6 linked regions of the Homo sapiens genome follow. The protein of the gene in region 2 purifies or fractionates together with the protein of the main gene of each other region. This does not show direct contact. Each region holds a gene or a part of one and is shown on either strand. Other genes may lie near its edges. The genes, in order: TRIM44, SMIM8, PRTN3, SEMA6B, MNDA and LCP1.

Region 1 (5,009 bases), on a different chromosome or scaffold from region 2:
TTCCTCACTAGGGAATTTGGTCTCCAGGGCCACTTTTGACCTTAATCCATGTTGGAGCCATCAATCAAAGAATTGCTTGCATCTAATAATGGTGTAATGCCAATACTAAGCCCTGGAACGAAGATAGGATTCATTTCTCATGGATTATTGAGCACTCTGGGGTAACCTGGCCCTGATCTGATGACGCTAAGATTTAAAAACCCAGATGCATGTGACTAGAACTATCTTTTCTCCCATGATGCACTGCTTTCAACACTGCATGACTGTAAAAACATGTGCCACGCTGATTATATATAGAGATGGTCTAAATCAGCTGCATCCCATTTGGTACCCAGGCAAGGATTTTTCCATACCTATCTTTTTGCTGGTGGTAATGATGAGTTTTGTCACTTGCTATAACATTCTCTGTCCGTCTTTTTTCTTTTATGTAAATACTTTTGTGACTTCATTGTAACCAGCATTTTGTAATACTCTTAACAGCAGAGGGGATTAAATCATGATTCACTTCTGAACAGTACAATCAGCAGTAGGAAAACGAGGAGGGAGGGAGAGGGAAATTGTCCACCACTTCCCAATGATAATGCCTGGCTCGGACCCCAGATTCACATCATACTTGAAGTTCATAAATTCTGGGCACTGCTCAGCTTGAGGAGGCAGGCATTGCTCCTTCATATTTCAGGGTGAGACAAATGCTCTGTTGAAGCCATGCCACTACAGGATACATTCACCTCTGCTTGCTTTCCTCCCTAAGCCAGAGTGTAGTTAAACATTTATATGTCCCAGGCCAGGAGATCAAATTAAGAGGAGGTTAGCTACTTTCCCTGGCTCTTAAAAACATTTGAGTCCAAGTATGGTTCTCTGGCTTGAGGGTGGCCATTTGTTGCCTCACTGTTTTTATTAGGACATCTGGAGATTAGAGGTGTTAATTGGAAGTAACTTTTCTATATTTGGTTTCTCTCCACACATTATGAGACCTTTTAGACCCAGTTGGATGGCTGTATCCTAGTATGAAATTCAGCTTCTAAGTAGGAAGAACTATGATAGAGGAACAAGATTGCTCTTTGACTTGGTGATAGTAGGGCAATAGGGAGTGTCAGTAGGGTAGTTTCAGGTGGGGAGGATGACAAACCACTGATAACAATAAAAATGGGTATTTCTCAACACTCAAGCCAATTTCCCATTTGATAACAAGTAGGTTCTGATCTATTTTCCCCAAATTAATATTTTCCCTGGAAGATTCTGACCTGTCTGATCAAATAAAGGCATTCCTCTGAGAGTATACCTAGCCCACTTGTGGCCAAATTATACTTGACTGTTATGTACTCAAAACAAGCTTTCCTGTTAATCTCTTTCTCTTACCTCTATTATGAGGACAAGACGTGGAAGAATTAGGTCACCGGGGCATCTGCCATTGCATATGTTTAAGTGGTATAAAGAAGCCAGGATTCCTAGAATGGTCTGTCTTTTGCCATTTCTGGGACAATGAGAAAATCCATCTGGAGTGTTTATGCCCCTCTGAATAGCCAAGTCATGGGCTTGTTTGCTTTCAGTCACTGCCTTCAGAAAAAGACAATTTTACAATGACTTACTTCTAATAATCACTGAAACAGCCTCATGAGGACATGCAAAACTGCTGTCTATCTTCAGACCTGGCCCATTGTCAAATGGCAGACTTGCAGAGCAAATAAGGGACCTGGCCTAGTTCACAAGGCAGTCAGAAGTGATCCAAAGTTCAGGCTCCCCCTCCCTTTTATCACTCCACCCTGCCTCTACTCCTCCGCCTCCTATTCTTCCGGCCTTTCCATCTGGAAACCATGAGCCTCATGGATTCCAGGCACAAATTCTCAGATTTCAGATGTTTGGGAAATTTCTCAGCTTGGGTCATTCTTCAAGAGTAAGAAATTGAATTTGTGAGAAAAAAAAACAGCTGAGACTGTTTCACAGAAGAGAAAATAAATAAGGTGTGGTGCGTATCCATCCTCTTCCCAACTCAGCTCCAAAACCACACACAATGTCTAACTTCAAAAAGAGTATTTAGATCCCCCCTGGGAAGGAACAGAATGGAAAAACAATCTCCACTCATAAAAACACTTTTCTGCCTTCTACAGTATAAACACAACTGGCATCAGATAATACAATGTAATTGATTTTATGTGTGTAATTGGGGAACAGAAGGGTCTCTAGAGGGTAGACCTAAGAGTAATGGAATGGAGTGAAAAGTAAAATTTAGACTAAATTGTTGGGAGGAAACTGTTAACATTGTGAACCACTTGACCCTAGTGTTGCATCTTCACAAAAAAGAGCAATGTGCCGTCTTCTGTCTTTGGAAAATGGGACAAGCTTGCTCCTGATACTAGGTTTTAGAAGCATACAGACTTGGTTTTAGTACTGGCTTTGTTCTTTACTAACTCTGAACAATTAAATGAGCAGATGGTCTACAGGGCTTAGTACAGTGCCTGACACATAGTAAGCACTTAGAAATGGTAGCTTCTGACTGTTGTGCTGGAGTCCTGTTAGAGATTCAGTAGATGGAGCCACCTTCATGTTGCCCCTCACTGAGCTGCTCTGCTCACCTCTAGATGCTCCCCATGGCTGTTTCATAGCCCTCTGTACCACATCCCCATGTACTTTTTCATATCAACGGTAAGTACCTCAAATTACCGTATGTATTTACTTGTTCATAAGGTTGATGTCTGTAACTCTTTGAAGGTTGTATTAGTCGTTTGCTCCTATATTACTAATGATGACAAAGTCGCCTGACAGAGTAGATGTTCAAATTTATGGACTTAAACTGACTGACATCTTGATAATGCCCATATCCAGAGGTACTCCAGATATTATATCTTCATGCAGAAAACTGAAAGATACCTTTAGCTACATCTACCCCAGAATGAGTGTCCAAAGCAGGTGGCACCACCAAAAGGCACCTTCTTTTCCCATGAAAAGAGGGAAGAGAGTTGAGAAGCCTCACTCCCATCCCTGCTCTGCCACTGACAAGTTGTGTGGCATTTGGCACATCATGTTCTCTCTCTACATGCGCCTAAAATGACGGGTAGGGTCAGAGACATTGGAGGATCTCTCTTTTCTCTTCCACCTCTAACACGGTAAGATCTTAGCAAAGTAAAAAGGACAGTGATAACAGAAAAATTGTTCCTCTAAGAGTCCCAAGTCATCTTTTTTCTCTCCGTGTGTGTTAGCATTTGTGTGTGTCTGTGGGTGTGTATGCATGTGTGTGGAAGCTATACAAGGAAAGCTGAATCCATATGTAGACTTCATGGAGACTAGTACTGCTCCAAATGTGCACAAGCCATGTGATATGGTTTGCCTCTGTGTCCCCACCCAAATCTCATGTTGAAATGTAATCCCCAATGCTGGAGGTGGGACCTGGTGGGAAGATTGGATCATGGGGGAGTTTTCTCATGATTTAACAACATCCGCCCTTTGTTGTCATGATAGTGAGTTCTTGTGAGATCTGGTTGTTTAAAAATATGTGACACCTCCCCCCACCTTCCTTCTGCTCTGGCCATGTAAAGTGCTCACTCCCCCTTTGCCTTCCACCATGATTGTAAGTTTCCTGAAGCCTCCCTAGAAGCTGAGCAGATGCCAGCATCATGCTTGCTGTGCAGCCTGCAGAACTGTGAGCCAATTAAACCTCTTTATGAATTATGCAGTCTCAGGTGTTTCTTTATAGCAGTGAAAGAACGGACTAATACACCACGAAAAAAAAAAATGTACCACAGTCAAATAAACTGGGAAGCAAAACAGTGGGCCAAACAAAGTTAAATAGGTTTCTTCCCTGTAGAATTTCTGGGAGCTTTTAATATGTTCACGTGCATTGTAGAGCTTTCATGTAACAATTTTCTAGTTTTCTGGCAGTTCTGTGTAACAATTTTAGGAAACACTGATTTAGAGATGAATCTAACTCTTCCTGAGTTAACTGTTGAGAGAACAAAGGCCCAAAGAGATTCAAGGATTTGCTTAAGGTCACCTGGCTATTGGGAAAGCTGAGTTCTCCATATTTGACCACTGCATCCCAGAAGAGAATGTCTGTTTAGTGACTCAAGAGCCCACATTAGAACATTCTAGGAGACATCCCAAGGTTTCTCCCTTGATTCTAAAGGGAAGAGTTTGATAGGCTGCAATTCTCTGTCTCAGGACTTGCACAGACATTAACGTTCAGCATAGTGCAAGCTTCTTTGTCAGTGTGGTGCCGTCGGTAATATGGGGTGCAGCGCTGACAAGCTATGGTTCTCTCTCTCTTCCTCTCTCTCTCTCTCTTCTTTCCTCCCTCCCTCCTGGTTCTCTTTTCCAGGTTACATTCCAGGCTCACTATTGTCATACTCTTGAGTGATAGTAAAGAATAAAACAGCACTGACCTGCTTGATTAAGATCTCTACCGCATCGATATACTGATCACCAGGGTATTCAGGTGCCCAGTAAGCCTTGTGCATGGGAAGCCTCTTGACTCAAACGAATGGTGACTGGGAAACTGAGGTGGAAGGCCACTAAAGGTGGCAGTTTGTATCTGGCCTCTTAACAGTGTTCACCATGAAACATTCTCAAATGCCTTCCCTGATATGTTAGCCTGAGGCATCAGAGGAACCGTCAGGTGCCTTGTGGGGCTATCAGTGTGTGACAGGCAGCAACATGGGGGTGGGAGGTGTAGTAAGAGTAGGTGTGTGTGTGCAACACCAGAGGGAAATATAGGCATATCAGGAAGAATAATGACTTGGCACCCCTCCAAACTGCTATTGTTTAGATATTAGGTCAACATTTATTTAGAGAAGATGGAGGCAGGTGTGGGGTAGGGAGCTGGAGTCTGTGTCCCCACCTGCTTACCACACTCACAGAAATAAAAGCCCGGGCCCTCTTTTTAGAAGACCATTTAGGGACCATCTGTTGTTATTCCAGCCTAACCTTTTTGGGGTCTCACCCTATCCACTTCCAAATGGCTTTCAAATTATTTCTTCCAATCCCATACAATTACCTCCCTGAAAGGAGTTCTTGGA
Region 2 (5,642 bases):
TGCCTTGCTAGATTGGGGAAGTTCTCCTGGATAATATCCTGCAGAGTGTTTTCCAACTTGGTTCCATTCTCCCCGTCACTTTCAGGTACACCAATCAGACGTAGATTTGGTCTTTTCACATAGTCCCATATTTCTTGGAGGCTTTGCTTGTTTCTTTTTATTCTTTTTTCTCTAAACTTCCCTTCTCGCTTCATTTCATTCACTTCATCTTCCATCACTGATACCCTTTCTTCCAGTTGATCGCATCAGCTCCTGAGGCTTCTGCATTCTTCACGTAGTTCTTGAGCCTTGGTTTTCAGCTCCATCAGCTCCTTTAAGCACTTCTCAGTATTGGTTATTCTAGTTATACATTCTTCTAAACTTTTTTCAAAGTTTTCAACTTCTTTGCCTTTGGTTTGAATTTCCTCCCGTAGCTCGGAATAATTTGATCGTGTGAAGCCTTCTCTCAGCTCGTCAAAGTCATTCTCCGTCCAACTTTGTTCCGTTGCTCGTGAGGAACTGCGTTCCTTTGGAGGAGGAGAGGCACTCTGCTTTTTAGAGTTTCCAGTTTTTCTGCTCTGTTTTTTCCCCATCTTTGTGGTTTTATCTACTTTTTGTCTTTGTTGATGGTGATGTACAGATGGGTTTTTGGTGTGGATGTCCTTTCTGTTTGTTAGTTTTCCTTCTAACAGACAGGACCGTAAGCTTCAGGTCTGTTGGAGTACCCGGCCGTGTGAGGTATCAGTCTGCCCCTGCTGGAGGCTGCCTCCCAGTTAGGCTGCTCGGGGGTCAGGGGTCAGGGACCCACTTGAGGAGGCAGTCTGCCTGTTCTCAGATCTCCAGCTGCGTGCTGGGAGAACCACTGCTCTCTTCAAAGCTGTCAGACAGGGACATTTAAGTCTGCAGAGGATACTGCTGTCTTTTTGTTTGTCTGTGCCCTGCCCCCAGAGGTGGAGCCTACAGAGGCAGGCAGGCCTCCTTGAGCTGTGGTGGGCTCCACCCAGTTCGAGCTTCCCAGCTGCTTTGTTTACCTAAGCAAGCCTGGGCAATGGCGGGCGCCCCTCCCCCAGCCTCACTGCCGCCTTGCAGTTTGATCTCAGACTGCTGTGCTAGCAATCAGCCAGACTCCGTGGGCGTAGGACCCTCCGAACCACGTGCGGGATATAATCTCGTGGTGCGCCATTTTTTAAGCCCGTCGGAAAAGCGCAGGATTCGGGTGGGAGTGACCCGATTTTCCATGTGCCGTCTGTCACCCTTTTCTTTGACTAGGAGAGGGAACTCCCTGACCCCTTGCACTTCCCGAGTGAGGCAATGCCTCGCCCTGCTTCGGCTCTCACATGGTGCGCGCACCCACTTACCTGCGCCCAGTGTCTGGCACTCCCTAGTGAGATGAACCCGGTACCTCGACTGGAAATGCAGAAATCACCCATCTTCTGCGTTGCTCACTCTGGGAGCTGTAGACCGGAGCTGTTCCTATTCAGCCATCTTGGCTCCTCCCCTCTTGTTTTGTTTTTAGACAGAGTTTCGCTCTGTCGCCCAGGCTGGAGTGCAGTGGCACGATCTCGGCTCACTGCAACCTTCACCTCCTGGGTTCAGGCGATTATTCTGCCTCAGCCTCCCGAGGAGCTGGGATTACAGGCCCGCACCACCACACCCAGCTAATTTTTGTATTTTTAGTAGAGACGGGGTTTCACCATATTGGCTACGCTAGTTTCAAACTCCTGACCTCAAGTGATCCTGACCTCAAGCAATCTACCCGCTTCGGCCTCCCAGAGTGCTGGGATTGCAGGCGTGAGCCACCCTGCCCGGCAGGAAAGATACTTTTTTAGAAAGTATGTTTTACCTTAAAAACAACATATATATAATCAATTTTTAAAACTTAAGTGATTATAATTTTTTTTCTTAAATATTGTAATATACATGCAAAGGCCTTTTATCAATTCAAGAGTAAGATGGGGTGAGGTGGTGAAATATTGGTGGGCTGGTAATTGGGAGACCTAGGTGATCGCACCCTCCTGGTAAGGACATCTCCTTGGGTCTGGGTTTCTCAGAAAGGGGTTTAGAAGGGGGAGTTAGACTAAATGGTGAGTATGAAAGTAGCTACCATTCATTGAACATCTGCATCTTTTAAAATGTGTCATCTTAATTAATGCACACATTTAGTACCTATCTATGCAATAGATAGTATTGCTCCTTTTATAAAGGTAGAAACTGAGAATCAGAGTTGTCACTTAAAGACACACAGCTTATAAGTAGCAAAGTGAGAATCTGAGGTTATGCTATGTTTCCCCTCAAGCCATGAAGTCCTCTGATTCTATCCCAAACTTGTTTAAACTAATTTAAATTATTTTTAAGGTTTTCTGCCCCAAAGTTCAAGTTAGTTTCTTAAGTATTAAGATAATGTGGCATGTGAAACTATAAAAAAGTGTATTATACTTTCATTAAAATATTTTGCCCATTTTATAATTCTCTGTCTTTTAAAGGAAATGCTTTCATTATTAATAAGGTTCCTGCTCGTTAACATTTTATGATTCTGGTCATTTTGTTTTGTCTTCTATTGAGGTGCTTATTTCTAAAATGTATGTTTGAAGATTAAGTGTTTCCCTCAAAGTAATTCTTATATTCTTTATATCTTAGTCTAATTTGCATGTACAATATATTAATAGGTAGTCAAGTATTCTGGAATAACTCCCTGAGCAAGAATTTTGCTAAAGAAGGGAAAATCATTCAAAAATGACTAGTCCTGACTCTCGGTGTAGGACCATCTGTACAGCCTCTCACATTGTGTGTTATTAATTTCAGGGGCTTACTATTCTTACACTTTGAGATGTAAATGACTCTCATGGAGTTGGGTAAACGGGCAGTCCTTTATCTTTGCTTCTTCCTTTTTCCATTGCACGCTTCCGTCACAGGAGGATGGACAGAAGAAAAAGGTAAAGAACATTTTACCAGAGAGAAACAAATGAAGCAAATACCCCTTAGTTTAGACCTTTTTTACAGGCACCTGTGAAATGTTCTACTCTCCTCTATTTTTTTTTTTAAGAAAAGATAAATAACAGTTTCTTAATCATGCATGGAAAAGGGAACAAGAAGTGGGTGATGGAAAAATGAAGAAGAAATAAGAGTGGGGCAGATTGCACAGCCAGGGGTGCCTGATTAATTATTTTGCAGGTAGGCCCGCACACAAATTAATCACAAAATTACTTAGCCAAGAGCAGTGTAATGCCAGGTTCCCAGCATCCTTGCTAATCTATGTGTATGTATGTTTTATGTCATTACTGTTTTAACACAGTAAATGAGGTTTTTAAATGCAGCTTAAAAATAAATAGATCCTCAAAGTGATAATAACTAGAGATTGGTCAATATCATATGTAAGTAAATGAGTGACAGCTGCAGTGGAAACAAAAAGTAAGAGAAGAAGGTGGAGAAACTAGTGGGAAGACTAAGAAAGTTCTGATGGAAGTGTGCTGGACATTAACTGGTTTTGTCTTAGGTGAGTGGTAATGTCAGAGTAAGTTATTGCCATGCCTTGACTTTATGATTAGTTCTGCAGCTTTTAAAATTGAAACTTGTATTAGTTTTGTACTTGAAAACAGCTAGTCAACTTAAACTTCAGGATTAAAAGTTTACTTGTTAAAATACAGATTTGTTTTCCCCAAAACAATTTATACATGTGTGAAGAAATGACTAAGGTTTTGCATTCTACCTGTTTTATTTATTCCTGGCACATCTTGAATTTATTCGTCAGCCATACTTGTACAGCTCTGTGGGCTGGCATGTGAACAAATACAGAAGAATTTTCTCGTATGTAGAAAAGATTTTGTTTTTGTTTTTGTTGTTGTTTTTAAAATAGTTATATATAACAAATTCTTGGCTGCTAAGACCCTTTCTGGTCTCAGTAATCTGAATTTTTTTTAACAAAGTATAGATGGTTGTTAAAAAGTCTTAGTTTGATAGATGGTGTAAATAAGTTCATGGAATTTTGGGAGAATTGTTGTATCATCAGTGACTGTGGCTCATAAAGGAGAAGCAGCAATAAAACTGAGCTGTTTTATCCCACTTCTAATAAAAGAATGATAAATAATAGAAAATGTTACTCTCATACTTTCCAGAAAGTGTCAGTAACAGTGGAAATTGTGGTATATTAAATCTTTTAAAAATATACATGTGAGTTTCCAGTCAAAATATTCTGTCATTTCTAGCAGAGTTTAACATAAACAGTGAATTATTAAGGTAAATGTGAGTGTCTGGGAGTTGCAATATAACAAATACTACCCTGATTATTTTATTGATTCATTATAAAGGAAATATAGGTTCTGCTAAGGAAAAAAGGAGATCAAGCAATCTTACAAATAAAATTAAGTCATCACAATTAGTGTTAGAATGCTATATAACTATATAGTTTTTTACAGACATATTTCATATAGGTTGAATTTCATAACACTCAGCATCACTGCATCCATTTAATTTTAAAATACTGACATTTTTGTTAGTTGTAACTAGTCTCTCTCTTTCTCTTTCTCCTCCTCTCCTCCCCCCCCATATATGTATATATATATATATAAATGACAGCAGATCCCTTCTGAATAGATTAATGCCCTCCCTGAGGGGATGATTAACTCACTCCACACCTGAAGTCCAAAATTATATACAGTATATAATTTTATATACCCCAGGAGTGGAGTAATAATAATATATAATGTAAATTGTATATTACATTATTGTTTAATATATAATTTATTATGTTAATAAATTACATATAATTAATATATAATTATATGTAACATAATTTTATATAATTTTGGACATCAGGTGTGGAGTGAGTTCATCCTCCTCAATTCCTGGCACATTATCATCCACACAAAGTATATGTAATAAACTATGCTCTGAGGACCCTTCTGTGCTCTGCAATATGAACTTCTATACCCATCTTTTCCATCACCTTGGAAAAATGCTGTTTATGTCAGTTTCTGGTTACAATGACTTTTACCTTTGTATATTTGCTTTTTCAGGCCTTTGTAGTATTTTTATCTAATGCCTCAGTTTCATGTAGTGGCACACTCTGAGGCTGAGATTCAGCCCTAATAACATGGCCATGGGCTATTTTCTTCCTAATGTTCCTTATAGGTTTGGCTGTTGACAGACTATAATACTGCTTCCACTTTAATGACTGCTTCATTTTGCATTTTCTTTTCCTATCTTAGCCCATTTGTGTTGCTATAAAGGAATACTGAGGCTGGGCAATTTATGAAGAAAAGAAGTTTATTTGGTTCATGGTTCTGCAGGCTGTACAGGAAGCATGGTGTCAGCCTCTGTTTCTGGTGAGGGGCTCAGGTTGCCTCCACTCATGGTGGAAGGTGATGGTGATCTGGCATGTGCAGAGATCACATGGTAAGAGAGGAAGCAAGAAAGAGAGGGGAGGTGCTAGGCTCTTTTTAACAACCAGCTCTCCAGGGGACTAATAGAGTGAGAACTCACTTGCTCCCCACGCTCCCCGAGGAAGGGTATTAATCTATTCATGAGGGATCCACCCCCATGACCCAAACACCTCCCACTAGGCCTCACCTCCGACATTGGAGGTCAGATTTCAACGTGAGGTTTGGGAGACAAATACCCAAACTATAGCACCCACGTTTATAGTCAAACAAGTTTTTAGCACAGGG
Region 3 (4,480 bases), on a different chromosome or scaffold from region 2:
GGAACCCTGGCCGCCGCCCTCCTCCCCTCATGGCAGCCCGGTGCCCGGGGTGGGGGCACGGTTACTTACGAAGCAGATGCCGGCCTTGCGGCGAGGGACGAAAGTGCAAATGTTATGTGGCCGGCAGAAGAAGGTGACCACGGTGACATTGAGCTCCTGCAGGACCTGGGCTGGGGGGTCGTGGGCACCCACGCGGCCCCAGCCCATGGCCAGGCACTGGGTGCCGTGGGGCACTGGCTGGTCCTGCTGTGGCAGCTGGACTGTGGCGACGGAGGCACTGAGGTTGGCTGGGCTGCTCAGCTGGGGCAGAAGGCAGGCGGCGGTGAGACGCTGCTTCCAGGTCACGGTGGCCGCCCGGGCCGCCCTCCCACCACACCCACCACACCCACCACCTCAAAACGCCGCGGATGCCGCTCCCTCCGCCTGGGCCCCACGACCCCCTTTGTCCCATTTGTCACTATTGTATTCATTCATTTTCTTTCCTTCTTTCTTTCTTTTGAGATGGAGTCTTGCTCTGCCACCCAGGCTGGAATGCAGTGGCGTGATCTCGGCTCACTGGAACCTCCCGGAGCCATCCCATTGGGTGAGGTGGCCAGCCTGGTCTCAAACTCCCAACCTCAAGTGATCTGCCTTCCTCAGCCTCCGAAAGTGCTGGGATTACAAGTGTGAGCCATAGTGCCCGGCCATTCATTCATGTTTTCTTTCTTTCTTTCTTTTCTTTTTTTTTTTTTTGAGATGGAGTTTCGCTCTTGTTGCCCAGGCTAGAGTGCAGTGGCACAATCTCGGCTCACTGCAACCTCTGCCTCCTGGGTTCAAGCAATTCTGCTGCCTCAGCCTCCCAAGTAGCTGGGACTACAGACACCTGCCGTCACGCCCAGCTAATTTTTGTATTTTTAGTAGACACGGGGTTTGCCATATCGATCAGGCTGGTCTCAAACTCCTGACCTCAGGCGATCCGCCCGCCTCGGCCTCCCAAAGTGCTGGGATTACAGCCACCGCCCCTGGCCCATTCATTCATCTTCAAAGCACTTTTTTTTTGAGATGGGGTCTTGCTCTGTCGCCGAGGCTGGAGTGTGGTGGCATGATCACAGCTCACTGCAGCCTCAACCTCCTGGGCTCAAGTGATCCTCCCATCTCAGCTCATGAGTGGCTTGGCGTGTGCTACCATGCCCGGTTGATTTTTAAATTTTTCTTTTGTAGGCTGGACGCGGTGGCTCTCTCCTATAATCCCAGCACTTTGGGAGGCTGAGGAGAGCAGATCACTTGAGGTCAGGAGTTCGAGACCAGCCTGGCCAACGTGGCAAAACACCGTCTCTACTAAAAATACAAAAATTAGCCAAGCGTGTTGGTGCATGCCTGTAATCCCAGCTACTCAGGAGGCTGAGGCAGGAGAATTACTTGAACCTGGAAGGCAGAGGTGGCAGTGAGCCGAGATTGCACCACTGCACTCCAGCCTGGATGACTGAGTGAGACTCTGTCTAAAAAAAAAAAAAAAAAAAATGTCTTTTATAGAGATGGGGTCTCACTAGGTTGGTCAGGCTGCTCCCAAACTCCTGGCCTCAAGTGATCCTCCCATCCCAGCCTCCCAAAGTACTGGGAGTACAGGCGTGAGCCACAGTGCCCAGCCCCAAGCACTTACTGAGCACCACCTGTATGCCCAGTCCCGTTCTAAGCCACATGAGTCCAATAACGAACAACACAGACAAAAATCCTCTGCCCTGGGGAGCTGATCTTTCTGGGTGGGAGGAGGCTAGGAGGGCCCCATGAATGAGAGGAGCACGCGGTTCAGTGGAGAACAGTGAATCGGGGAGGGCTGTGGCTGTCCTCGCCACTTCCAGTGAGGTCAGGGGAGGCGCCGGAGGAGGCGAGGGCACCTGGCTTTCTGGGGGAACAGCACACCGGGCGGAGGCGCAGGCAGGGGAGAGGGGCAGGCAGGGGAGAGGCGCGCAGGGGAGAGGCGCGGGCGGGGGAGAGGCGCGGGCGGGGGAGAGGAGCGGCCGGGGGAGAGGCGCGGGCAGGGGAGAGGCGCGCAGGGGAGAGGCGCGGGCAGGGGAGAGGGGCGGGCAAGGGAGAGGCATGCAGGGGAGAGGCGCGGGCAGGGGAGAGGGGCGGGCAAGGGAGAGGCGCGGGCGGGGGAGAGGCGCGGGCGGGGGAGAGGCGCGGGCGGGGGAGAGGCGCGCAGGGGAGAGGCGCGGGCGGGGGAGAGGCGCGGGCGGGGGAGAGGCGGGGAGGAGGAGTGGCCTGGTGTCCAAGGAGCGGTCTCCCCCGGCCAGTGCCACTGGACCCAGGCTGCAGCGGCCTCGGTCGTGGCCCGGTATACAGTGGGTGCTCAATGAATGCTGGCTGCAGGAATGGGGGTCCCGGAGCCCTCTGGCCGTGCCCCTCCGAGCCCTCGCGGCCCTGCCCGCCCACCTGGATGAGGAGAACGTCGTTCAGTTTGTTCTCCGCGTCGTAGTTGTTCAGAAACACCTGAGCCACCGAGAAGTGCTGCTGGGTGGGCTCCTGCGTCCGCACGTTGTGGGCTCCGAGCACCACGTTCACCAGGCGCTGGGGTCTGCGGGGGTGGGGTGGTCACTCCTCGGCGCCCTGGACACTCGCCGCCGCCCACAGCCGGCCCTTCCCGAGGCCGCGGTGCAGCCCCAGACCCCTCCCTCGGCGACCCTGCCCCGGGCCTCCCCCCAGAACTGCCCACGCGCGCGGGGCCTGGGGTCTGCAGACGGGGCTTAGCTGGGTCCTCCCCGGGCAGAGGGACAGTGGCCGGGCCAGGGCTGGAGGAAGAGGGCGGGGCGGGCGGACAGGGGTGTGGAGGCGGCCGCTCACATGTCCCGCAGGCAGTGCGCGGCCGTCAGCACGAAGCTGGGGTGGATCAAGGTGCCTCCGCAGAAGTGGCTGCCCGGGTTCCCCCGCATCTGCAGGGAGGCCATGTAGGGCCGGGAGTGTGGCTGCGCCTCGTGCCCGCCCACGATCTCCGCAGCTCGGGCAGCACCTGCAGGGGGGGAGTCCAGGCGTCAGGGAGCCCCCAGGCTGCAGGGAAAGGGGGGATGGCAGAGCAGCCCCTGGGCCTCTCCGAGCCTCCGTCTCCCGATCTGCAACCCGGTCAGTGCCTGCTGGCTGGTGGGAAGGACTCAGCGCCCAGGCCGGGGGGGTTATAATTACGACGATTTCCAAAGGCGCCCTGGTGGCAGCTTTCAGTCCTGAGAGTCAGGAAGGCTTTTAAGACGCAGACCAGGTGGCTGGGTGCAGTGGCTCACGCCTGTAATCCCAACACTTTGGGAGGCCGAGGCAGGAGGCTCCCTTGAGCTCAGGAGTTCAAGACCAGCCTGGGCAAAATTGTGAGGACCCCATCTCTACAAAAAATTTTAAAATTAGCCAGGCATGGTGGTGTGCACCTGTCGTCCCAGCTACTTGGGAGGCTGAGGAGGGAGGATCGCTTGAGCCCAGGAGGTCAAGGCTGCAGTGAACTGAGATCACACCACTGCACTCCAGCCTGGGCAACAGAGCAAGACCCTGTCTCTAAAACAAAATTTAAAAAAATGTTTTTAAAGAAGCAGAAAAATTGGTCGGGTGCGGTTGGCCCACGCCTGTAATCCCAATACTTTGGGAGGCCGAGGTGGGTGGATCACCTGAGGTCAAGAGATGGAGACCATCCTGGCCAACATGGTGAAACCCTGTCTCTACTAAAAATACAAACATTAGCTGGGCGTGGTGGCACGTGCCTGTAGTCCCAGCTACTCCGGAGGTTGACGCAGGAGAATCGCTTGAACCCAGGAAGCGGAGGTTGTGGTGAGCCAAGATCGCCCCACTGCACTCCAGCCTGGCAACAGAATGACACTCCGTCTCAAAAAAAAAAAAAAAAAAAATTAGCCAGGTGTGGTGGTTCGCACCTGTAATCTCAGCTGCCTGGGAGGCTGAGGCAGGAGAATCGCTTGAACCCAGGAGGCACAGGTTGCAGTGAGCCGAGATCACACCACTGCACTCCAGCCTGGGCAACAGAGTGAGATTCTGTCTCAAAAAAAAAAAAAAAAAAAAAAAATCCTGGGCGCAGTGGCTCATGCCTGAGTGAGACCCCATCTCAAAAAAACAAAACAAAACAAAATAAAAAAAAAGAAGCAAAAAAAAAAAAAAAAATCAGCCAACAAAGAGACCCATTTTGCAGATGAACAAACTGAGGCATTGAAAATCCCCCTCAGGTCAGGAGTTCGAGACCAGCCTGACCAACGTGGTGAAACCCCATCTCTACTAAAAATACAAAAACTAGCCAGGTGTGGTGGTGTGTGCTTGTAATCCCAGCTACTCAAGAGGCGGAGGCAGGAGAATCATTTGACCCCAGGAGGCTGAGGCTGCAGTAAACTGAGATTGCACCACTGCACTCCAGCCTGGGCGACAGAGCAAGATTCCGTTTCAAAAAAGAAAAAAAAAGGGCCAGGCGCGGTGGCTCACGCCTGTAATCCCAGCACTTTGGGAGGCTGAGGCAGGCGGA
Region 4 (5,642 bases), on a different chromosome or scaffold from region 2:
GCCTCAGCCTCCCAAGTAGCTGGAACTACAGGCATGCACTGCCACGTCTGGATTATTTTTGGGTTTTTGTTTTAGAGACAGGGTTTCACTATATTCCCCAGGCTGGTCTCAAACTCCTGACCTCAAGTGATCGTCCTGTCTTGGCCTCTCAAAATGCTGGGATTATAGGCAGGAGCTGCCGCGCCTGGCCCCTTCTGTCCTGTTGAAGTTGGTCTGTCTGCCTTCTGTTGTCTCTTCGTCCTTGCCAAAGCCTGCCTGTTTCTTGGTGTCTCTGTTCTTCCCCTATCTCCCTCCCCAATAAATGAGATGAGACCACCCCATGCCTTTCTTTTCTTTTTTTGAGACGGAGTCTTGCTCTGTCGTCCAGGCTGGAGTGCAGTGGCGTGATCTTGGCTCACTGCAGGCTCTGCCTCCCGGATTCACGCCATTCTCCTGCCTCAGCCTCCCGAGTAGCTGGGACTACAGGCGCCCGCCACCACGCCCGGCTAATTTTTTGTATTTTTAGTAGAGACGGGGTTTCACCGTGTTAGCCAGGATGGTCTAGATCTCCTGACCTCGTGATCCACCCACCTTGGCCTCCCAAAGTGCTGGGATTACAGGCGTGAGCCACCGCGCCCGGCCCACCCCATGCCTTTCTAAAGTTCTCTGATGGAGTCCAGTTTCCCCACCCACCTCCCAGAGGATTCGAGGGTCCTCCAGCCTCCTCCCTCCCCTCCCCCATGGTAGTGGGGGATGGGGGTCTTAGCCTGCCGTCCCCCCAACTCACCTGTGCAGTCCCCTAAGCCTGAGGTGCTGGCCCCGGACACGTCCTGCTCAAAGGCGGCTCTAATGGGGAGAGGAGGCACCGTCAGCAGAGGCCCCTCTCACAGTCAGAGATCAGGGGGATCTGGGATCATGGGCGGGTCTGACACACCCTCCACCCACCTCCCTCTCCCGCAGTACCTGGTGCCCGGGCTGAGGAAGATGCAGGAGCCGTCGGGGGCCCACCCGCAGTAGGGGTCCTGACTGCCGATACAGTTCCTAGAGCAGACCAGGGACCGAATGGGACAAGTGTCCAAGTCACTTACACAACCCCAATGGTGATGGTGACCTGTGGGCCCTGTTCCAAGCACCTGCCTCTTTATTTTTATTTTAATTAATTAATTTTTGAGACGGAATTTCGCTCTTGTTGTTTATTTATTTAGTTATTTTTGAGATGGAATTTCGCTCTTGTCGCCCAGGCTGGAGTGCAGTGGCGGGATTTTGGTTCACTGCAACCTCCGCCTCCCGGGTTCAAGCGATTCTCCTGCCTCAGCCCCCCGAGTAGCTGGGATTACAGGCACGCGCCACCATACTTAGCTAATTTTTGCATTTTTATCAGAGACAGGGTTTCACCAGGTTGGTCTTGAACTCCTGACCTCAAGTGATCCACCCGCCTCGGACTCCCAAAGTGGTGGGATTACAGGTGTGAGCCACCACGGCTGGCGTTTTCTTATTTTAAAATTAAAAAAATTTTTTTAAATTAAAATTTAATTTTTTTTTTCTTTAAGAGACAGGGTCATGCTCTGTCACCCAGGCTGGAGTACAGTGTCATGATCATAGTTCACTGCAGCCTCAACCTCCCAGGCTCAAGTGATCCTCCTGCCTCAGCTTTCTGGGTAGCTGGGACCACAGGTGTGTGCCACCACGCCCAGCTGATTTTTGCATTTTTTTTTTTTTTAGAGACAGGCTCTCACTATGCTGTGTTGCCCAGGCTGGTCTCGAACTCCTCGGCTCAAGGAGTCCTCCTGCCTTGGCCTCCCAAGTGCTGGGATGACAGACGTGAGCTACCAAGCCCAGTCCCTCTTCTTAATAGCAACTTCTGGAGTCCTTAGAACAAATCTGTGTGCAGGGCACTGTTCACTCCCCACTTTACAGATAAGCAAACTGACGCTCCAGAAAGTAAATGTTTGCCCAAGTGGCAGAGCTGAGATGGGAGCCCAGGCATCGTGCCAGAGGCTGTGCCCTTGGACTCGGAGCTACTGGGTCATTGTTGCAATAACGGCGGGCAGGAAGCAGGGTCCTCCGCATTGACGGCTCACATGGAGTGCAGGCGTGTGCCAGCACTGGCATGCATCCTAGCTTTCCTCCCATTTTAGAGACGGGGAAACAGCCTCCACCCTGGTCCCTGGTTCTCCTTCCCCTGCAGTCTCCTCCTGGCAGCAGCCACCAGAGGGCACCTGTAAGCACCTGAGTCAGGGCCAGTCCCTCCTCTGCCTGCAACCCTACATGGCTCCCATCTCCTTCAAGGTCAAAGCCCAAGTCCTCCCCGAGGCTCACAAAGCTCTGCACAAACTGCCTCGTCCTCTCCCATCCCCTCCCCGTCCTCCCCTCCTCCCTCACTCCCCCTTGCTCACTGTGCTCCAGCCACACCGGCCACCTTGCTGTTCTTCCAACACACCAGGAGTGGTCCTGCCCGCGGGCCTTTGCACGGGCCATGCCCTCTGCCCAGCTCAATGACCAGGACATCATTGGGCTTTTGACTGGAACCCAGCTGTCCCTCCCTGTGCCCATCCTCCCTTGCTTCCCGCCCACGGCTGGCCTGGGGTGGACACTCACTTCATACACCCCGAGTACTGCTGGCAGCGAGCCACAGGCACTCGGACCACGCAGCGGGGGAAGGCAGCCAGCAGGCCCCCCGAAGCTGCGTCCAGCTCCAAGCTCAGCAGCCGCTGCCCTGTCTCGCCACCGCCGGGCCGTCCACACCTGGGGACAAGCAGAGTGGTGAGGCTGAGCGCATCTCAGCCCATCTCCCCTCCTGCTGGCGACCCCTTCCCACCTTTGCCCAGACTTACCTGTCCGGCCGGTAGGTCTCAAACTCCTCCAGGAAGACACTGAGCCCAGACGTCCCTGAGGTGCTGGCATTGGGCCGGACGAGGAACTTGAGGACCGTCCCCGCCTCAGAACCCAGGAAGACAACGGTCTGGTTGCCCCAGGGGCCGGCTCCCACGTCCACAGCCACTCGAGTCAGCTGGTGCCTGGGGGACAGGGCAGGGGAGGGTCAGGCTGGCCCCATATCACCACATGCCACCAACACGGGCATGGCCATAGTTACACGGGTGCATACAGACACTGACACACCAACACATGTGACAGCAATAAATGCGTGTGTGCATGGATGCCGGGGACATGCGTGACTACACAGGCACGTGGGCACACTCGCCCTTTTTTGAAACATAACCCCAAACCAGGCTCTCCTCAGCCCTGTCTCTTTGGTTGAGATGGAGTCTCACTCTGTCACCCAGGCTGGAGTGCAGTGGCGCAATCTCAGCTCATTGCAACCTCCGCCTCCCGGGTTCAAGCAATTCTCTTGCCTCAGCCTCCTGAGTAGCAGGGACTACAGGCACACGCCATCACGCCTGGCAAGTTTATGTTTTGTTTTTTTTGAGACAGAGTCTCACTCTGTTGCCCAGGCTGCAGTGTAGTGGCTCGATCTCGCCTCCTGGGTTCAAGCGATTCTCCTGCCTCAGCCTCCCAAGTAGCTGGGACTACAGGCGCACACCACCACACCGAGCTGATTTTCTTTTTTTTGTATTTTTAGTAGAGACAGGGTTTCACCATTTGGCCAGGCTGGTTTCAAACTCCTGACCTCAAGTGATCCTCCCGTCTTAGCCTCTCAAAGTGCTGGGATTACAGGCATGAGCCACTGTGCCCAGCCCCGCTTTCTCCTGATATGTATGTGTGTCTGTGTATCTTTCAGTCTCTTTCTCTCTTTGTCTCTCTTCCCTATCTCTGTCTCTCTGGGTGTCTGTCTGTCTCTGATTGTCTCTCTCCCTGTCTCTCTGTCTCTTTCCCCCTTTGTTCTCCTGGTGTGTGTCTGTCTGTCTACCTCTTTTTTTTTTTTTTTTTTTTTGAGGTGTAGTCTCCCTCTGGCCCCAGGTTGGAGTGCAGTGGCGTGATCTCGGCTCACTGCAACCTCCGCCTCCCGGGTTCAAGTGATTCTCCTGCCTCAGCCTCCCGAGTAGCTGGGACTACAGGCGCCCACCACCACGCCTGGCTAATTTTTGTATTTTATTTTATTTTATTTTTGAGACGGAGTTTCGCTCTTTCGCCCAGGCGGGACTGCAGTGGCGTGATCTTGGCTCACTGCAAGCTCCGCCTCCCGGGTTCATGCCATTCTCCTGCCTCAGCCTCCTGAGTAGCTGGGACTACAGGCGCCTGCCACCACGCCCAGCTAATTTTTTGTATTTTTAGTAGAGACGGGGTTTCACTGTGTTAACCAAGATGGTCTCCATCTCCTGGCCTCGTGATCCGCCTGCCTCGGCCTCCCAAAGTGCTGGGATTACAGGCGTGAGCCACCATGCCCGGCCAATTTTTGTATTTTAAGTAGAGACGAGGTTTCTCCATGTTGGCCAGGGTGGTCTCGAATTCCTGGCCTTAGGTGATCTGGCAGCCTCGGCCTCCCAAAGTGCTGGGATTACAAGCATGAGCCACCGTGCCCAGCCCCATCTGTCACCTCTTGATCCCTCTGTCTCTCTCTTTGTTCTCTCTTTCCTAGTGTCTCTCCATCTTTCCCTCTCTGTCTCTCTGTGTCTCCAGCTCTCTGGGCAGCGCCGGAAGCCATGGGCTCATCTGTGTTGAGCATCTGGATCCTCTCACCCTCCATCTACCCCATCCTGTCTCCCCTCGCCATGCCCTGCCTCTCCAGGACCGACCTCATCAGGGTCCGCAGGATCCAGGGCGCATGGCCCAGCGAGGGCACCGCCTCGTCCATCAGAGGGTGGGTCTTGACAAAGTTGAGGATGTCATCCGGCAAGGCGCTGGAGGCATTGTACTGCATCCCGGGGGCTGCGCAGCACCCGGGCCTGGGGGTGACAAGGGTGTGGTCAGGACGAACGTAAAGGTTCTCATAAAGGGGCCTGATTCACCAGAGGTACCCATTGCTTTGCCCAACGACCCTCAGGTTTTTTGTTTGTTTTGTTTTTGAGACAGAGTCTCAATCTGTCGCCCAGGCTGGAGTGCTTTGGCTCACTGCAACCTCCACCTCCTGGGTTCAAGCGATTCTCCTGCTTCAGCCACCCGAGTGGCTGGGATTACAGGCACGTGCCATCACGCCCGGCTAATTTTTGTATTTTTAGTAGAGACAGGGTTTCGCCATGTTGGTCGGGCTGGTCTCAAACCCTCGACCTCAGGTGATCTGCCCACCTCCGCCTCCCAAAGGGCTAGGATTACAGGCGTGAGCCACCACACCAGGCCTCAGTTTTTCCCAACTGTATAACGGGTACAGCTGAACTCAGCATCAGCTAAATAACCACCCGGAAGCCCCAGCCCTCGGCCCTGGGGATCAGGACCTCATCCGGGCATGTGACTCAGGATGGAGGGGGTTCTCACCGGGGTCGAGGCACCTGATCCTCCGGCACCGGCGTCCAGATGGACTCGGGGGACTTCTGCTCTCGGAAGCGGCCTTCAAACACAGCTGCCACCTGTGTCAGGTCAAAGGCGCAGACAGCCGAGCCAGGGATGCTGAGGGGTTGGGATGAAAGAGTTTGGTGAGCCCGGTGGGAGGCCCCATCTCGGACAAGTGCGTGCAGGAGCCTCTGTCTGCAGGAGCCAGTGAATCTTCAGTCTTCCTAGGCCAGAGATGTCCCCTGTCCCTCCCGCATCTGTCGAATGCAGCCACTCCT
Region 5 (5,642 bases), on a different chromosome or scaffold from region 2:
ATGTGCAAGGTTTTCTCTATTACCTTTTGACTTCTCTTTTCGAAGATTGTTAACAAGGTTTTTAAGTGATGGCATATCTTTGGCAAGTTCTATTAGTTTGTCTAGACAGGCAACGCCTTGGAACTTTTTTTCCATCAAATCTGTAATCTTAATTCTGTTGTATTCCTCTTGCATTTTTGTAGTTAGTCCTAAATCATAGGCCAGTAAGGACTTAATTGATGTAAAATGATAATCATCCATGAGCTCAAATCCTTTCAGCAAAAGAATTTTCTTGTATTCATTCACCATTTCTGATGTTATAGCTTGGCCTATAAAGTAAAAATGACACACAACATTACACATTTATGCAGACAATTTTAAAAAATGAGATATGCTTTTGTGAGTGAGTGTCCCAGGCCAAAATGTTGTCCTTGGATGCGTATAAGAAAAAGGGACTAAGTTACCAGATATGTCACTGTGAACAATGGATCAAGACTTGCTTTATTAGGAGGTTCAGTGAAGTTCTTCCCTTTTAATGTTGATAAGTTGGGACAGAGGTGTATGTGGTGAAATGATGTTTGGAAACAGGTAATTGTTGCAGTATTTATAGTATGGGTTTTGTGGTGTCAAAGTCCCTGGTTCCTCTTCTGATATTTTATTGGGGCCTGAGCCTATCCCTCAATGCCTACCTCTTGGTTCCTGATTCTTCCCTGATTCTTCCCTGATTCTTCCTGGTCATCCACTATGACCAAAGTGGCCTAAGTATAAATGGGCTGCAGCCACTCACCTTATGTGAATAACCTTCTGCCACAGCACTACAGTTCTGAGTTGTGGAATGGACTCTAGTCCTTCTTGGCTCTCCCTAATCAGCTCTCGTTAGCACTTTTTCTCCCTGGGGCTTAGAACTTGTTCTCTGTGTCCTATGCATCTATAAAATTGTCATTTTGCCATCCTCCTATCTGCTCTCTAGTGTGGAATTGCAGCATTTATTTTTTGCACATTTGTTTTTTACAGTCAATTATTTACCTCCAACTAGTCTTACTTTTACTAAAAGGTTTCTGTCAGACAACCAAGTAGGTTTCTTTATGGATAAAGACATGACTCTATTTTTCCTGAAATCCTTCAATGAGTTTTGATTTTTATTAGTATAGATTTCTACTCAGCATGACTTGAAAGGCCTTGCATAAACTGTATCTTTCTTTTTGTGTGTGTCTGTTACTTTTGAATTTCTTATACCTTATGCTCTAGAAATACACAATATGTCTTTCTTTTTCAGGTCTTCTTACTGCTAATTCCCTTCCTGCTATCTGGGAAAGCATTCCCAGTTTTCTTCCTCTGAATACTTCCTTAGAGTTTTTAATGCTTAATTGAGGCTTTATCTTCTGCGAGCTGTTGTGGTCCCACTCTCACTTATGTGTGCCTCTTTAACCCCTTGTGTACTACCTAAGGGCATTCAGTTCCTAACGTATATTCCAATTTTCTGTTTAAATTTATAGGTATTCCTTTAGGTTGGTGACCATGTGTTTGTGCAACTTTTATATAATTAGAGTGTCCAAATTCTTAGGGCTGTAAATTGTTCTCTTTTGGGAGAACATGAGTGTTCCTGTGTTTAAACCTATCAGATAAAGAGAAATTTCACACATGGGCACATATAGTAAAGCCAAAGAATATTAAAAGCAAAATGATAAAATCTTCCAGAAATACTGAGTAGAACACCTACAAAGATTAAATAATCTGATTGAACAGTCTGCAGCAGGTTAAGAAAGTAATTTTTACATAGTACTGATCCATAATTATATGTCTGCAATTTTAAAACCTAAGAAGATACTGAAGGATGAAAAGATTTGTGCGGTTTGGGGGCTTGGGAAGGGATGAGAGTTAGCAGGGAAGTGTGGTAGCAAAATCATCTTGCAAATTAGAGATATAATGTGAAGTAATACGTGGCTGATATGGTTTGGCTATGTCCCAACCCAAATCTCATCTTGAAATATCATCTTGTGATAGTGAGCAAGTTCTCATGAGATCTATGGTTTTATAAACATCAGGCATTTCCCCTGCTAGCACTCATTCTCTCTCCTGCCACCCTGTGAAGAGGTGCCTTCCATCATGATTGTAAGTTTCCTTAGGACTCCCCAGCCGTGCGGAACTGTGAGTAAATCAAATCTCTTTTCTTTATAAATTACCCAGTCTCAGGTATTTCTTCATAGCAGCGTGAGAAGGAACTAATACAGTGGCTATTTTTAATCTTCCTTATTCATCTCACTTTAATGTGAATAGTGGCATGATTTGTTGAAGAACTCTTAATGCATTTGATATTAGGATGTTGATATTACCTCTACTGGGACACTTGCAGTGCCTACATACAATGTATGCATTAAGTAGTCTTTCTAAAATCCCCCCCTAAAAAAATGAATTAAAAATCAGAGTTGTCCCAGGGGTTTCAGGTGAAGTGCTGTGAATCAGTTTTCAAGCAAAAATATTTTTCAAACTAAAATTTTGTATCTGGTCAAAATGTTATTTGAATGTTATGGTTTAAAAAATTGTTCTCTTCTCACTGAGAGTGACATTAGCAAGATTGCAGACAAGGACGTTCCAGACTTTCATTATACCATGGAAACACCAAATAAAGAACAATTTATGAACCAAACTAATGTTTTCAGCTGTTAAGAATTGGTTGCAACAAAGGAAATTCCAAACCAAGATTAAGCCACATTCAAAATAGTGGAAAACTTCTAGGTGTTTTTCTTTGTCCCTGTTTAACTTTCTCCCTTGAATGGTGTGACGTGATCAGGAGGAAACTTCCTAATTCCTCATTCTTCCTTTGGAATAGAAGGAAAAGTGTGGAACTGCTTTGCAACATTATAGCTTCTCTGTAGGTTCCTTGAGGGACTAGTAACTGCTTCACATGACTTGGAGCATTGATGGAAATGGTGGCATAGTTTAAATGTCAGATTTGAGGCTGCAAAAAGTAGTGGTGGGTGCTCCAGCTTGTGAGAGCTTCATGGGATCTGCTACTCCCTGGGTGCCAGAAGGCAAGAGATTATGGATAGAGGAATACAGTAGAACATCTAAGGTCATGAAAAGAGGCAGGTGTGGCTCTTAGGGAAATTACAGATTAAAAGCAGTGTGTATATGAGAGAATTACAAAAAATGCACACACATAAGCCCAGGCAAGACACACGTCCATATAGGCCTCAGAGAACGTTTATATTTCATACTTAGCTGAAGAGTGAAAGTCCTCCCCTGAATATGGTGCCAGTTAACAATGGTTGAGAGGGGGCTGTTTTTACAAATGTCCAGTTTTCAACAAAAGGTATACAAAGAAACAGGTAAACATGGTCAATTTTAAAGAAAAAAATGAATCTCCACAAACTTTCTCTAAAGAAACACAGCCCTCAGACTTTCTTGTCAAAGACTAAAACAGCACTCTTAAATATGATAAATGAGTTAAAGGAAAATAGGTAGAGACAACTAAATAAAATCAGGAAAATGATTAATAAAAAATGAGAATAGACAAAAAATAGAAATTACCAGAAAAAATTCCATAAATTCTGAAGCTGAAAAACACATTGACTGCATTGTAAAATCCACTAGAGGGGTTCCTCAGCCCACACCAATAGGCAGAAGAATCAGTTAGCTTTTAGACAGGTCATGTGTAATTATCAAGGCTGAAGAACAAACTTTTTTAAAAGATATAAAGGAAAGTGAACAGAACTTATAAAGTTCATCAAGTGGGACAATATATGCATTATGTAAGTCTGAAAAGGTGATGGAAAAGAGAAAGGAATAACAAAATTATTGAGTAAATAAGGACTGAAAACTTTCCAAATTTGAGAAAAGACTAAATGTACAGATATAAGAAACCAAACAAGCTGCAACTATGATAAACTCAAAGAAACTTACACTATGACACATTATTATCAAATTACCAACACTCAAAGACGAAAAGAAAATCATTTAAAAAGCGCAAGAAAAAGGCAACTCATTATATCCAAGAAATCTTCAATAGGATTATGAGCACATTTTTCAGCAAATACTTTGTAGACCAGAAGGTAGTGGGACAATACATTTCAAGTGTTTAAAGAAAAGTCTGTCCATCAAAAATGCTATATCTGGGAAACCTGCTATTCATAAATGAGAGAAATTAAGACATTCCCAGATAAACATAAGCTGAAGGATTTCATTACCACTATATCTACCTTAAAAGAAATACTAAAGAGATTTCTTCAAGCTGAAACACAAGGATGCTAGATGGTAACTCAAACTCATACAAAAATGTAAGTTCTTGATGAAAGGTAAGTATATACATAAACATGAAACATGACTTTTGCTATTTTGATTTGTAATCATTTTTTATTATTTTATAGGATTTAAAATGTGAAAGCAAAACAATTTATAAATCAATGTTAATTGGTACATATTATATAAATGCAATTTGTAATATTAACATAAAATATGTGTTGGGGAGCTGTAAAGGAGTAAACATTTTGCATATGATTGAAGTTAAGTTGTTATTAGTTAAAAATAGATTGCTATAACTTTAGAATATCATATGCAACCTGATGATGACCACAGAGATATCTGTAGGATGTACACAAAGGAATAGAAGAACATAAAAATGTTTCACTACAGAAAAAAATCAACAAAAAGAAGTCACTAAGAGACAAAAACCTATTAAGACATACAGAAAACAAATAAAAAATGGCAACAATAAGTTCTAAGTTCTTCCTTATCAATAATTAGTTCAAATGTAAATGGTTTAAACTTACTAATCAAAAAGCATATTAAAATTATATATACATATATATCACAATGAATTTAAAAACAGGGGATCCAAGTATATGTTGCATACAAGAGGCTCATTTTACAGATGTAAGGACAAAGATAGAAAGTGAAGGAATAAAAGAGATATTCCATTGAAATATTAAATAAGAGAGCAGAGTTTGCTATACTAGGATCAGATAAAATAAAAATAACAGTCAAAAAGTGTTATAAGAGACAAAGAATATTACATAGTGTTAAAAAGGCCAGTTCACCTAGAAGATATGACAATTAGAAACATACATGCACAAAACATCAGGGCTCCTAATATATGAAACATTTACAGAATTGAAGGGAGAAATAGACAACTCTAAGGTAATAGTAAGAGACTTTAATGTTCCACTTTCAATAATAGGTAGAACAATCTGACAGAAGAAAATTTGGAAAAAATAAATATTGAAAAACATTATAGACCACTTATAGACCAATTATATCTAACAGATATATCCAAAACAGTAAAGCCAACAACAGTAGAATACACATTTTTCACACGAACATATGGAACATTGTCCCAACATATACCACAAATTAGGATGCCAAACAAGTGTTAATAAATGTTAAACGTTTGAAATCATACAGAGTATATTTTTTTATCATAATGGAATAAAAGTAGAAATCAACAGAAAGAAAACTAGAAAATTCATGACCCTGTGAAAATAAACAACACAAACAATGAAACATGTACAAAGAATCACAAGTCAAATTTAAATCCATATTTAGAGAAATTATATAGAAACACAACATATCATTTCATTAAATGCAAAGAATATGGTGATGAGGGTAATTTACAGATTTAAACAACTACATTTACAAAGAAGACTCTCAAATCAATAATCTGACTT
Region 6 (4,520 bases), on a different chromosome or scaffold from region 2:
GGTATAATATTATCCATTGTGGCCTTATTTTCGGGGCAGAAGATTAAAACAACTTAAATATCTATTTAGAGACCACTGGTTAAATGGAGTTTGGTATGCCTATATAGTAGAAGACCATGTACCTGTTGGAAAGATTGAAGTAGGTCTGTATGCACCAATATGAAACAGCATCCGAGACACGGTATTAAGTAAAAAAAAAAATGGAATAAAGAGTGATGTTTATGGTATGCTGATATTTGTTATAAAAAGGATGTGTGGGTGTGATATGTGCACAGAATATTTCTAGGATACAAAAGAAATTGTTAACAGTGGTTGCTGATTAGGAGGGGAATTTCAGTGCAGTCTAGTACAAATAGAAAGAAACAATATCTATAGCCTCTTGATATGTTGGGAACAGAGTGACCTCCTAAGTATAGAAGGTGCAGCAGTGTTTAGGCCAGGAAGGAGCTACCTCCAAGAAGAAGTTGCTGGTAAAGCCCGGACACACAGCTTAGGCACAAAAGCCCAGCTTCCCATCTGCTGTGTGGGTGGGTGGCTCCTCTGCAGGTCAAAGCGTGATCATGCCAAATCGACGGCCAGCTTCTCTGTCACAGCAGCCTAACTGAGGAAGTTGGCTGCAGCAGAACTCCTCTGCATCCCCGCAGTGCACCCCCACTTCTTCCCAAGTAAGGCCCCGCCAAGCTGGAGAGGAGATCTCGGGCGCTGCTCACCCCAAAGATTCCTCCTCGAATCAGTCTGGACATTGTTTTGCACCAATCCCCAAGTCTGACTTTGGTTTATGATCGGGTTTGTTGGGGCTCAGAAAAAAATGAAACCCCAAAGTGTGGCACTTTGGTGTGCAGAGTACTTTGAACTAAAGGAGACTGGAAAGCCTCCAAGGAAACCTCAGAAACAAGGTCTCCCTCTCCGATCTTCTCCTGCCCTCCTGTCTCCTCCTCTTCTTTCTCCCCTGAAGCAACTCGCAGAAAGCAGAATTCCTCTTTCTCAAGGAGGGTCATAGAAACTAGAACCCCTTTCCCCCAAAGCAAGCCATAAAACCCTAGAAAAATTACTCTAACCTTCCCCTGCCTTTCTGTGTAGACAGTGACGGTAAAGAAATTCTCTGACCTACCTTGCCTGATAGTAGGTAATAAGACCCTCATTCCAGGGGGGTCCTGCCCTGATCCCTGGAGGAAAAAATGCTACAGACTGCAGCCAAGAAGAATCGGAACACACAGGCCTTGCTGGGCTTCCCCTTCCATTTATTAGCCTTAGATCACAGCCTTTTGCCCAATCACATTTCTGCCTGGCCGTTCATTCTGCATTAAATCTAAGCATAAAAATGAACAGTTTTCCTTGGATCTTTGGGTTTTCATTTCTAAAAGCTCCCATGTCATGTAAAACTTTGATGAAAGAAATATGTTACCCTTTTCTCTTGTTACCCATCTTTTGTCATAGTATTGGCCGTGACTCTTATGATAGGTGAGGAAAGGTATCACACCTCTTCACTCCTACAAGTTCAGTGTATTTCTGAGTTTGGCTCTCAGCTTTAATTTTATTCCCTGCTTTGCCTAACGGAAATTTATTCTTCAGTTTTTAGCTAAACTATTTCTCCTCAGACTGTTTCCTGTCATAAACTCATGTCTCACCCTGCCCTTCTTTTTATCACTCGTCACATCTGTTATTTTAATTGTTTAACTTCCGTCTTTCCTAAGACAGGCATCAGCTGAGCACAGTGCCTGTTTAGTTCATAGGCACATTCCTAAAACCTTGCACTGTGCCTTGCACATACTAGGCACTCGAACGTGTTGGAGGAATGAATGAATGAACGATTTATAGCACACTGTCAGCAAACTTTCAAAATGAAACATCCAGAGACACCTAATATAGGGAACATTTTATTTGGAAAGATTTTGAGCATCATTCTCTTTTCATTTTTTATTAAGGCAGTAACATTCTTTCTTCCTGGAGGCGGAGGGGGGAAATCATCTGAGGCTACAGTAAGTTCAATCTGAAGTCAAAACCAACCAATTTGTATTCAGAAGCAGCAAAAATACTGGTTATGGGCTGGGAGGAGCCACATGTTGGCTTTCTGAGTCCACTGCCAAGGAACAGATCCAGAGCAATGCATTTCAATTGCTTTGAAAAATGGCTAAGTTCCATTACATACCACCACTAAAGAAGATACCTCATTGATGGAGCTTTTCACCATGATAGAGGGCGTCTTGCATTGGTTCACAATGGCCTGTTGCTTTTTAGCCTTCAGTTGGTTTAGGGGGAAATTGCTCAACCTATGAGACCTGCTCAAATTCATACTGTTCTGGTTTTGCTTTGGAATTCTTTGTCCAGTAAATTAGCTCTTCATAACGCAGTTCCACCATTTCTTATCCAGCATAGATTCATTCTGCCCTTGACAGCTGGCTAGGTGTGTGTGTATGTGAGTAGGGGTGCTATTGATTGGCACATATTGTCCCCCCTGGAGTTTAGGGGTGGCAGAAAGCTTTTATAGTACCAAAAAAGTAAACATTGATAATATGGCCTGACAACAATCAGATATGCTAAGCTCTAGAAGCAAAAGCAAGGTAGGATTGCCTCCAAATGTTGACAGGTATTAGCCATACCACAGTAACTAGATCTAATGTGAGGGCTAAATGCCTGGAGAGGCAGAACCCTAAAGGATGCTTAGTTATAGCTCCATGCTGCCGCCGAGTGGCTTGATGCTCCATTACACCCTCCTTGGATCCAACCTTCCATTAAGGCTGAAGGCTCTAGAGGGCAGAGTATTCAAGATGTTAGATCTGGTCCAAGCCCAAATTCTAGAGTTAAAAGCAGAGGGGTTCTTAGTGGCTGAAAAAAAACAAAACCTGATGACATTTGGGACTCCAGTTTTGAGGAAAGGCTCTGATGATGAGGCTTACTTCTGCAGGCTACCAGAGACTCCTGAGACTTCAACAGCTTGACTGATTTATCACACACTCCAAGTGGCCCAGAGACAAGGACGGCCAGAAGAGATGGGCCCCCCCGGAAGGCATGGTTCCAAAAGTGTGAGGAGCAAAGTCAAGGGAGGCAGGGTAGGAAGAGGGGACAGAAAGAGGGGCTTGCAACAGATCAAATGCTGACCTCCAGGAACAGGGTTTAGGGCAGGTGTGATGTTTCCCCTCCTGGCCCTCATCTTGAACAAAGAAAAGGGAAGCCACATGAAGCTGGTTTGAAAGATTATATCAAAATTAATACCACTGCAGCTTCTATCCTTGGCTAATGGCAAAAGCGAGAAGGGTACCTGGAAAATAACTTCTTTCTTTTCCTCTAGATTTTCGAAGAAGCAAATAAATCAAGAATAGAAACCTATATATAGGAGGTTGGGCCTCCTGCAAAGAATGAAGCACTTTTTGTTAAATACAGGAGAGGCTACTTGGCTGCACTAATATGTGCTTTTTGGAATCTTATAGAGTGTCACCAAGTTGAACTTTGGAATGGCTTGAATCATCCCTGGAGCATCTGTGCCGGGCAGTCAGGAGTGAGTGCACCGCCTCCCACCCAGCCCCATTGGGCCTCACACCCTCTTCATTCCTTTCCCCATGAGGCAGGCAAACACGGTCATGACCATTTTGGGGTTCACTTCAACCAGGTCTTCTGGCAGGGCATACACTCTTGCTCCAATTTTTCGGGCCATAGAGATGGCATATCTAAAAGGGAGAAAAGAGGAAAAATAAGGAGAGCCTGAGAAACACAACACGAATGGGACCCTGGAGGGTCACAGTCACAGTCGTTCCATAGTCAGGACAGAACTCACTCCTGCAGTGGCTGGAGTCAGTCACCAGCATCCTCACACTTTTGTGGACAAATTTTGGCTCAACCAAAGATTCTGACAAAGCATCAGACTTGCTGGCTAGTCTCGTGATCATTATCAAGTGTATTATTTGTCCTTGGAGACCTCTTCAGCTCCTGCCTTTTTTTTAAGTTAAGTTTTTTTTTTTTTTTTTGTAGAGACAGGGGTCTCACTATGTTGCCCAGGCTGGGCTTGAACTCCTGGCCTCAAGAGAAGCTCTTGCCTCAGCCTCCCAAAGCACTGGGATTACAGGTGTGAGCCACTACAGCACGTGCTGCCACTTTTGATACTCACACCAGGAGTATTCTCTTGGGCTACATAGCAGCATAGCAGAAAGAGTCACAGAACTGAATAAACATGTGTGCTAGGAAAAGTTTGCAGACTACATTTCAACTACAGTAACATTTTGACAAGGAACAAAAGAGGAAAAATGTATAATATCCTGACCTTGGCCAGGCGCGGTGGCTCACGCCTGTAATCCCAACACTTCGGGTGGCCGAGGCGGGTGGATCACAAGGTCAGGAGATCGAGACCATCCTGGCCAACATGGTGAAACCCCATCTCTACTAAAAATACAAAAAATTAGCCAGGCGTGGTGGCGTGCGCCTGTAGTCCCAGCTACTCAGGAGGCTGAGGCAGGAGAATCGCTTGAACCCGGGAGGCGGAGGCTGCAGTGAGCCAAGATCGTGCCACTGTAGTCCAGCCTGGGCAA

Evidence for each region.
Region 1: the proteins of SMIM8 (region 2) and TRIM44 purify together in Homo sapiens (co-immunoprecipitation; one large-scale study listed by IntAct). This does not show direct contact.
Region 3: the proteins of SMIM8 (region 2) and PRTN3 purify together in Homo sapiens (affinity purification with mass spectrometry; one large-scale study listed by BioGRID and IntAct). This does not show direct contact.
Region 4: the proteins of SMIM8 (region 2) and SEMA6B purify together in Homo sapiens (co-immunoprecipitation; one large-scale study listed by IntAct). This does not show direct contact.
Region 5: the proteins of SMIM8 (region 2) and MNDA purify together in Homo sapiens (affinity purification with mass spectrometry; one large-scale study listed by BioGRID and IntAct). This does not show direct contact.
Region 6: the proteins of SMIM8 (region 2) and LCP1 purify together in Homo sapiens (affinity purification with mass spectrometry; one large-scale study listed by BioGRID and IntAct). This does not show direct contact.

Annotation. Positions count from the first base shown.
Region 1 is NC_000011.10:35,814,342-35,819,350, forward strand, and holds the end of TRIM44 (tripartite motif-containing protein 44), read left to right. Parts: 3' UTR 1-3,666; downstream 3,667-5,009. UniProt on the Homo sapiens protein: May play a role in the process of differentiation and maturation of neuronal cells. May regulate the activity of TRIM17. Is a negative regulator of PAX6 expression.
Region 2 is NC_000006.12:87,327,801-87,333,442, forward strand, and holds part of SMIM8 (small integral membrane protein 8), read left to right. Parts: intron 1-1,337; exon of another isoform or gene 1,338-1,478; intron 1,479-2,891; 5' UTR 2,892-2,912; intron 2,913-5,642.
Region 3 is NC_000019.10:841,967-846,446, reverse strand, and holds part of PRTN3 (myeloblastin precursor), read right to left. Parts: intron 2,987-4,480; coding exon 2,821-2,986; intron 2,555-2,820; coding exon 2,413-2,554; intron 301-2,412; coding exon 70-300; intron 1-69. UniProt on the Homo sapiens protein: Serine protease that degrades elastin, fibronectin, laminin, vitronectin, and collagen types I, III, and IV (in vitro).
Region 4 is NC_000019.10:4,545,450-4,551,091, forward strand, and holds part of SEMA6B (semaphorin-6B precursor), read right to left. Parts: intron 5,482-5,642; coding exon 5,350-5,481; intron 4,824-5,349; coding exon 4,674-4,823; intron 2,997-4,673; coding exon 2,814-2,996; intron 2,725-2,813; coding exon 2,578-2,724; intron 1,021-2,577; coding exon 943-1,020; intron 826-942; coding exon 767-825; intron 1-766. UniProt on the Homo sapiens protein: Functions as a cell surface repellent for mossy fibers of developing neurons in the hippocampus where it plays a role in axon guidance.
Region 5 is NC_000001.11:158,836,800-158,842,441, reverse strand, and holds part of MNDA (myeloid cell nuclear differentiation antigen), read right to left. Parts: intron 2,128-5,642; exon of another isoform or gene 2,046-2,127; intron 309-2,045; 5' UTR 289-308; coding exon 24-288; intron 1-23. UniProt on the Homo sapiens protein: May act as a transcriptional activator/repressor in the myeloid lineage. Plays a role in the granulocyte/monocyte cell-specific response to interferon. Stimulates the DNA binding of the transcriptional repressor protein YY1.
Region 6 is NC_000013.11:46,124,059-46,128,578, forward strand, and holds the end of LCP1 (plastin-2), read right to left. Parts: intron 3,666-4,520; coding exon 3,533-3,665; 3' UTR 1,865-3,532; downstream 1-1,864.